Linked DNA regions of Homo sapiens: all the other regions are linked to region 1. The links come from fine-mapping of genetic effects on gene expression. A gene starts in region 1. Each other region holds a variant in brackets. All regions are shown on one strand. Distances are from middle to middle. Region 1 holds the start of MRE11 (MRE11 double strand break repair nuclease). Region 2 overlaps MRE11 (MRE11 double strand break repair nuclease). Region 3 has its middle 23 kb from the start of IZUMO1R.

Region 1 (2,857 bases):
GCATTGACTAATAAGAATTTGTCAGGAAAATTCAAGAATATTTATCACTTCAATAATTTAAGATGAAGCCTAAGAACATAAACAATACTATATCAATATATCAAATTACTGCAAGACTCCAATCTATAGCTGCATATTAGCTTCCAGTTAACAAACAGATAAATATTTAAAACATTCCAAATACCCTTTTTGATGACTAATATTTCTGTTCATAAACAGGTTCCTTATTTACTGCTTATTAAATAAGTTTTCTTTTACTGTGATCACAGTTGACGAGCTTTAGAAACCCCAAATAACAAGGGATTCCAGAAGTCAGGTGCTTACAGTGCATCTGCAGTACTCATTTTTATGGTCAGTCAAGCTCCTCTGGGACCAGGTTCTTCTCCAAGAACCCCTGGGTACTGTACTCAAATGTCAGAAAATGCACTCGATTCCAAATTCTAGAAATTCTAAAAACAAAATTACATCATAAAACACATTTTTTAAAAGCCTGCACGTATTTAACCAACATGATTTACGCTGCACAAGGTACAGACGTCTTAATTAGACTGGCAAATTTAGAAGTCTCATTTTCATCTAAGCACCCACTATACTTTTTTTTAATGAACTGAGCATAGAAAATAATATATCTCCAGTGTACATCCTGTTTCCTAGTTTCACCAAGATGATTAAACTCCTATTTTCCTTTCCCGTGCTCTTATGGGAAATTAATGTATGCTAAATAAATGGGCAGAAAGGGTCACATACGGTTCTGGTTCAACACACAAACAACTCTAGATGTGCAGATATTTTTAAGTTGCACGCATAGGTTACTCTGGAGAACAGAGGCAATCCTGTATTTCCTATTCAAACCCCACGATTTTTTTTAAAGGACCTGGCTAGTTTGGAAAAGGGAACGGGCCCGCGTTTAAAGCGAGTGTAAATAAACAAACACGTGGTCTGCGGAGGAACACCTTTAAGCACCAGCAGGATGACTGAAAATAGCCAGGTTTGGGGAAGAGTGGCTGCCACCGCGAGACAACCCCCACCACATCTGGAGCTCCAGATTCCGTCGGGATTCCAAGCCTCAACACGCCCTCACCGCAGGGAACCTCGGAATCAGAACGCTGAGCCCGCCAGGACCCCTCCCCTGCCCACTCGGCCCGCTCTTCCCGAGGTTCCAGTTAACTCTGGGCTTCCGCCTGGGAACCTGCAGAAACAGGAGACGAATGCGATTCCTAAATTACCCCACTGCTGGACTCTTCGAAGCCCCACAATCGCGACCCAAGGCTGTCTTCTTTTCGGGAAGAAAGGGCAGGATCCGTGAAAAGAAAACAACACGGTCTGAACTTGCCTCTGAGAACCCGCAGGGCCGTAAACCTGAATTCCGCGGGAGAGAACGGCGTCCGTTTCTCTCGCGACACTTCATGGATAACGTAGATGCTTCAAGTCCAGTTCGGCTCTCATTGGCTACCGCACGCAGTGAGGGGGCGGGGAAAGTAGCGGCGAGGCCCCGCCCTCACGCAGGAGCCAATCCTGAGCAGGCTAGGAGACGAACCCGGAAGTGAGATGCAAGGCGGCGATTTTCCCTTCTGTCAGGTGGGTTGTTATTCCCTGTCCCGGACCTCGCTTTTTGATGGACCGGCGCCATCTAAGAACTCCTGAGCCCGTGGGGGTGGGTAGCCTGTGGACACAGGCCGAGCCCTGCAGGTCAGGCCGCTTCGTGGTCCCCAGGTAGGACCGAAGCCGCTTCTCCGCTCTTGGCTGTTTGGAAGGCCGCAGGCGGAGCTCACGGGCCTGTGAGCTCCCGGCTGGTGGCAGAGTGCCGGAGCTGGATCCCCTCTCCCTCCCTCCCAGTCGCCAGACCCTCTACAGGTGTCGCCCCTAGGTCCTTGAGTTCAGCACATCTGCACTGCTTTGTGCTGAGAGCAGTAAGATGTATAGTGCAGCGAAAAATAATGTAGAACTTTTGAATTAGAACGTCTGCCCTTTCAGTTCCATTGAAGGGTCCTTGATCTAGGGCAAGTTGTTTTAATCTATCTGAACCTCCTTCACCAGTAAGGTTTATAGCCCCGCCTATCACTGAGTTGTTTGTAAGGAGTTGACATAGTTCGGATCTCTCTCAAAATAGGATATGCCCTTTAAGTTAGGAAACATACCCTGACATTCCTGATGGAATATCAGGAATATCATCATCAAGTCATCAGTTTTGTTTCTTAACTGTAAGTCGGGTAGATGCGCCTAGGCTTGGCTTTTTAAACTAAATATACCAGTAAAATTTTGTACATAATTTTTTGTATCTGGATCTGTAAACTCAAAATTTATATAAAGGGAGTTTTTATTGAAAGGAAAAGCATGTTGGGGGAGAGGGTAAGATCTGTGGTATAAGGTTACTATATTTGATATAATTACAAGTGAACTTTTATTTATTAGCATCTGTTAAGTGTTTAATGAATTGATGTATGGTCATTTTTGTGTTGCAAGGTTCAGGAATTAGTTTGAGAATCAAAGAAAAAGTGGAAGCTCCAGGAGAATTAATAAAACACAGAGCAATTCTGATTGGATATCTCTGATTCCAAGGGTGTCTCTGATTGGGTGACTGAAAAGCCGGATTGGCCTTAGGAATACTTTAGTAAAATTCTTACATTTTACAATAAAGTAACAGGACCAGAAAAGTTACTGGACATGAGTAATACATTTAAACTTGAGTTTAGTGCTATTGCCACTAGTAATAAAGTTTAATACCACATTAAGATTGTATACTGTTAAACTTGTGAGATTAGGTATCAAGAAATCAGTATCTTGGGGTTATGCCTAACTCTGGAACTTCTCAGAATCCATTCCAGGCAAAATCAAGTGACAAGACTTTAATTAAATG
Region 2 (2,500 bases), 24 kb before region 1:
TGCAGTCATATGATCCATGGGAGACTCACCAGAAGATTTAGGGATCAATAAGCAAGGACTTTAGATTATTTATCTTGGAAGAGTTCAAGGTAAAAGAAAATAAGACTGATGTTTTCAAATATGTGGAGTTGTCTCATACTCTGAGAGGATAAGATTATAACATCTTAGACTTGAAAGAGTTCTGAAGACAAAAGCACTTGTTCTATATTGTTCTTAAGGGTAAAACCAAGTTACAAGGAGACAGCACTAGATTATTTTCATAAATGGCTGTGTGCACAGTGATTAGATATCTCCAGATGGCCAACTTCATAGCTGAACAATTCTAGTTCTTAGAAAGTTCTTGTATTGGAACAAAAACTGCCTTCCTATAACTTGGTCCTGATCTCAAGAACAATACAGAACAAGTGTTTTTGTCCTCAGATTTCTTTCACATCTAAGACTTTATAATCTTGTCCTTTAAACTGTCTGTAACAATGAAGTCCAAAAGAGTTTTCTGCAATAATTTTTTCTATGTGCATATTCAATATGGTTGCCAAAACCATATGTGGATATAGAGTACTTGAAATGTGGCTAGTACAAGTGAGAAACTGAATTTTAAATTTAAATGTAAATAATTAAATGTAAACGCCACATGTGCTAGTGAATACATATCAGACAGCACAGAGAAAATCTATAAGAATATGATCTCCTAGGTCAATTATTTCAATCCAACAAGCATTTATAGAGCATCATTTTGCCAGGTACTAGGTCAAGTGCTGAGACAGAAAAGTAAGATATGGGTCCTGTCCTCAAAGAGTTCAGAAGACACTCACATGCTTATAAAAAATAATATAACTTAACTAAGTACAATAACAGAAATGTACATAAAATACAGAGATAACAGAAAGTTATGTGCACACCTGGTGTTTAAAATGAACCTCTATTACTTTGTGTCACCAGCGTCTACTTTCCTCTCTGGATTCATGTCACCAAAGCCCACAGGATTTAGGTGAAGTTCATACAGTAGACCTCAACCAGAGGTGACTTTGCTTCTCTAAGGACATTTGGCAAGGTCTGTAAACATTTTTGATCATCACGACCAGTTAGAAGGGGTACTACTGGCATCTAGTGGGTACAAACCAGGGAGAATACTGCTAAACATCCCAGAGTGCACAGAACTGCCTCCCACAACAAAGAATTATTAGTACAAAATGTCAACTAAGCCAAAGTTGAAAAACCCAGGTCTGACTCCAGGGAAGGGCACATGACTCAGGCCTGGATCAATCAATGCAAAAGCAATTAATGCATTTTCTAT[C/A]TCTTTGGCTTGAGAGATTGGATTTAGGGATGCCAGAATCTTAATCTATGTTTGAGTTTCTAGAGTCAATCATCTTGAAACAAGCGTACACTTTTGGTTACGTGAGCTACACACTGCTCAAAAAGCTGTGACACTGAATGAGTCACCTTATCTAAGGTTCAGTTCCTCTAAACTATAGATGGTAGAAACTACTCACATATAGTATTGTTGGCTAGATTAAATGCTGTCAACAGTGCACATCACATACAGTAAATCAGTAAGTATCACTGGTCATAATTATTATCATTGTTACTATGTTACCTGATTTTTCATGAAAAGAAAACATAGTAGGACAGCTGACACAGAGTTAAGAACTGAGCGTCAGCAAGTGATGCTAATTAAGCTGTCAAACCACATATTATTAAATGCATTAATCCACCCAACCTTAGTAGTGGCTGAAATTTTCTAGAGATTTAGGGGTGGCAATGTGCATAGAGAGGGAGGTTTGGGACTTACATTGCAGCAATAGGGTGGATAGCAAACACATTTTTCACATTTCATTTGGGGTAGCTTTCAGGGTGAAAGGGACGCCTAATACAGATTATTAGAAGCTAAGGCTTTTCTCACACACGATAGTCTCCCATTCCTCAATCAAAGTTACTGCCTGCTTTCATAAATAAAATGAACAAATCATCAAATCAGGATTAAAAAGGAGAAAAGATTATGTATTATGTTTTTGAAAAGGAAGAAAGAAACTAGGAGAGAGATTTAATTTTTTTTAACATCCAGTATTCCTCTCTCTCAATGACTTAAAAAAAAAAATCTTGGACACAATTAAACACATTCACTGAAGAACAGTGTCCTTACAGGCTTCATGAGAATGTAATCAACATAAAGGCTTCCCTCTACTCTATTAAATTACTTAATTGAAGGTGAATAATTCTTCAACTAAAGTAGATCTCATTGACTTTATCAAAAAGAATTACCTTCTCCAAACAGAAGCTTTGTATGGCTTGGGTTACTTTAGGATTATCTGGGTTAAAAATGTCTGGATGATTAGCTAGAACAATATCCTCCATGAAAAACTGCCGCACTGTGTGAAGAGGAATTTTATGCATATTCATCTTCCTCCCTTTAATACGCAGCAAACCAACATGTCTGAAGTGGAGAGAAATGAACACCGAGTCACAGTGTAAATTTCCTCAGGGTGATGTGCAAACGAAAGCT
Region 3 (2,857 bases), 170 kb before region 1:
AATTAAAGGCTCCAGTCAACAAGCAACTAGTCAAAAGACAACTCACAGTGAATGCTAGCATAAGAGGTGGAGAAGGGAGAGGATGACTGGTCATTAGCCATCTGGGTTGCTGCTCCTGTTTCTGTAGGAACATCCAGAGCAGTGTGGCCCCCAGCAAGGTTGGTCTTCCTCAGGTGGCCAGCAGGAGGCAGCAGAACACATGGGAGTTGGGGAAGAGGGTGCTGTGGCAATGAAGATCGCTAACATGAGAACAAGCAGAGGCTATTTATTCAGAGGTGGTTATAACAAGGGGGTCAGCCACCCTCACTTATCCTATGACAGAGGCTCAAGGCAGGCAAAAGAGAGTGGGAAAACTTTATAGTTAAAAAAAAAGTTGGTGGAACAGCTTTAAGTATGCTCTGATTGTAATTTGTCAGTGTGGGAAGCTTTAGGCAGGATAATTAGAAGTGGAGCACCTTACATGATTAATTTGGGGAGCATTCTATGTTTGGGCCTCAGTTGGAAGTGAGGGCAAAAAATAAGGAAGCTGGCAGCCATTGACCAAGTCCTCCCCATTCTGTGAAAGTTGCTACAAAGGTTATGGTTTGGCTTCCCGGCCAGGTTGCTGCAGAGTTCTATTGTAATATACAGTCTGCCATTGTCCACTTATATATTCAGTCCGTTTGTATACTCTGTGCTTCAACATCATACTTGGTCTGCCCTTTCTGCAGCTACCCATGGGTGATCAATAGGAGGCTGACTTTGTGTCCTCCCATAGAGGACTCCCATCATCAACTTTGTATTAGCTATCCATTGCTACGTGTCTTAGTACATTTTGTGCTATTATTACAGAATACATGAGACTAGGTAATTTAAAACAAACAGAAATTTATTGGCTCACACTTTTGGAGGGTAGCAAATCCAATATCAATGTGCAGACATCTTGCAAGGGTCTTCTTGCTGTGTCATATGATGGCAGGAAGGGAGGAAGAATGAAAGAAAGAATGTGCGTAAAGGGGGCCAAGCTCTCCCTTTTATAACAAACCCACTCCCACAATAATGGCACTAATCCATTCACTTCACCTTCTTGGCCTAATCACTTTTCATCAGGTTCCACCTCCCAACACTGTTGAATTGGGAATCAAGTTTCTAACACCTGCTTTTTGGGGGACACATAAGAACCAAAGCACTGTGTAACAAATTACCCCAAAAGTTAGTGTCTTAAAATATTTATTATCACACATTTTCTATGGCCCAGAAATTCAGGTATGGTTTAGCAGATACTCTGGCTCA[C/T]GATCTCTAACAAGGACACAGTCAAAGTATCATCTGGTTGTGTAGTCATCTTAAAGCTCAACTGGGGAAGGATCCATTTCCAAGCTCACTCACAACTCTGCTGTTCACATGGTTGTTGGCAGAATTTAGTTTTTTGTGGGCTATTGGACCAAGAGCCTCAGTTCCTCACTGGCTGTTGGCCAGAGGCCACTTTCAATTCCTTTTAACATGTGTTTCTCCACAGAACAGCTCATAATATAGCAGCTCATTTCATAAGAGTCAGCAAACCGAGAAGAGCCAGGGAAAGAGAATCAAAACAGACTCTGCAATCAAAACAGAAATGATAGCCTTTTGGAACCTAGTCTCAGAAAAGACATTGAATCGCTTTTGCCTTATATTCTATTCATTAGAAGCAAAGTATTAGGTCTATCCCAGAAAGATCAACTCTGGGTGTGGTGGTGGGGGGTGGGACGGGGATTATAGAAGGGAATGAACACCAGGAATGGGGATCATTGGGGGCTGTCTTGAAGGTTGTCTAATCACAAAACTCTGTCAAATAGAGGCATAACCTGGAGATATTGTGGCTTTGGTTCCAGACCACCACAATAAAGTGAATATCACAATAAAGTGAGTCACACAAATTTGTTGGCTTACCAGAACACATTAAAGTTTACACTATATTGAGGTCTACTAAGTGAGTGATAGCATTCTGTCTAAAAAAGTGTACATACCTTAATTTTAAAATACTTTATAACTAAAAAATGCTGACAATCATCTGAACCTTCAGCAAGTTGTGATCTTTTTGCTGGTGGAGAGTTTTGCCTCAATGTTGAACACTTTGCTTTGGATTAGGCTTTGGCTTAAGGGAATGTTGTGGCTGGTTTGATTTTTTTATCCAAGTTATTAACACTTTCTCCATACCAGCAAGAAGGCTGTTTGGCTTTCTTATCATTCATGCGTTCACTGGAGCAGCACTTTTAATTTCCCTCAAGGACTTTTCCTTTGAATTCACAATTTGGCTAACTGGTGCAAGAAGCCTAGGTTTCAGCCTATCTCAGCTTTCAACATGCCTTCCTTATTAAGCTATTCATTTCTAGCTTTTGATTTAAAGTGGGAGACATGTCCTTCTCACATATAAAATATATTCATTCCATCCCAGTAGCCACAAAAGCCTTAACCTGTTCAGTACCAACTCAAAAGTCTATAAACTAGAGTCTCATCTAAATATCACCTAAATCAATGTGGGTGAGATTCAGGGTATGATTCACCCTGAGGTAAATTGCTCTCCAACTGTGAACCTGTAAATTCAAATAACTTATGTACTTCCAAATACAATGATGGGATAGGCATAGGATAGACATTCCCACTTCAAAAAGGAGAAATAGTAAGGAAGAAAGGGATAATGGGTTCCAAGTAAGTCTGAAACACTACAGGGCAAAAACATTTAATCTTAAGGCTCCAGAATAATCTTTAATTCAATGTCCTACCTTCCAGACACACTGGGGTGAGGGTTAGGCCCTGAAGGCTCCAGGGTTTTGCTAAGCGCATCCCATACAGCAACTGTCATGCATTGGAGTCACATGCTTGCAGCTGTCCCAGGTTGGAG

Evidence for each region. PIP is the estimated chance that this variant, and not a neighbour inherited with it, causes the effect.
Region 2: its variant is the best candidate, but not a certain one, in a credible set for the expression of MRE11 in Th2 cells (Schmiedel 2018, PIP 0.58).
Region 3: its variant is the best candidate, but not a certain one, in a credible set for the expression of MRE11 in lymphoblastoid cells (GENCORD, PIP 0.77).

Annotation. Positions count from the first base shown.
Region 1 is chr11:94,492,458-94,495,314 of GRCh38, forward strand. MRE11 (MRE11 double strand break repair nuclease) reads right to left here and starts at 1,387. Exons shown (of 20, transcript NM_005591.4): 1 at 1,334-1,387; 2 at 325-449. The coding sequence starts at 344. ANKRD49 (ankyrin repeat domain 49) reads left to right here and starts at 1,527. Exons shown (of 3, transcript NM_017704.3): 1 at 1,527-1,578. RefSeq lists an enhancer at 1,737-1,826.
Region 2 is chr11:94,468,212-94,470,711 of GRCh38, forward strand. It overlaps MRE11 (MRE11 double strand break repair nuclease), which reads right to left. Exons shown (of 20, transcript NM_005591.4): 9 at 2,260-2,431. Among named protein-coding and RNA genes, the nearest start is that of MIR548L, 2.9 kb to the left of the region's middle. The variant C/A (reference allele first, on the strand shown) is at 1,295.
Region 3 is chr11:94,325,696-94,328,552 of GRCh38, forward strand. No RefSeq gene overlaps it. Among named protein-coding and RNA genes, the nearest start is that of IZUMO1R, 23 kb to the left of the region's middle. The variant C/T (reference allele first, on the strand shown) is at 1,273.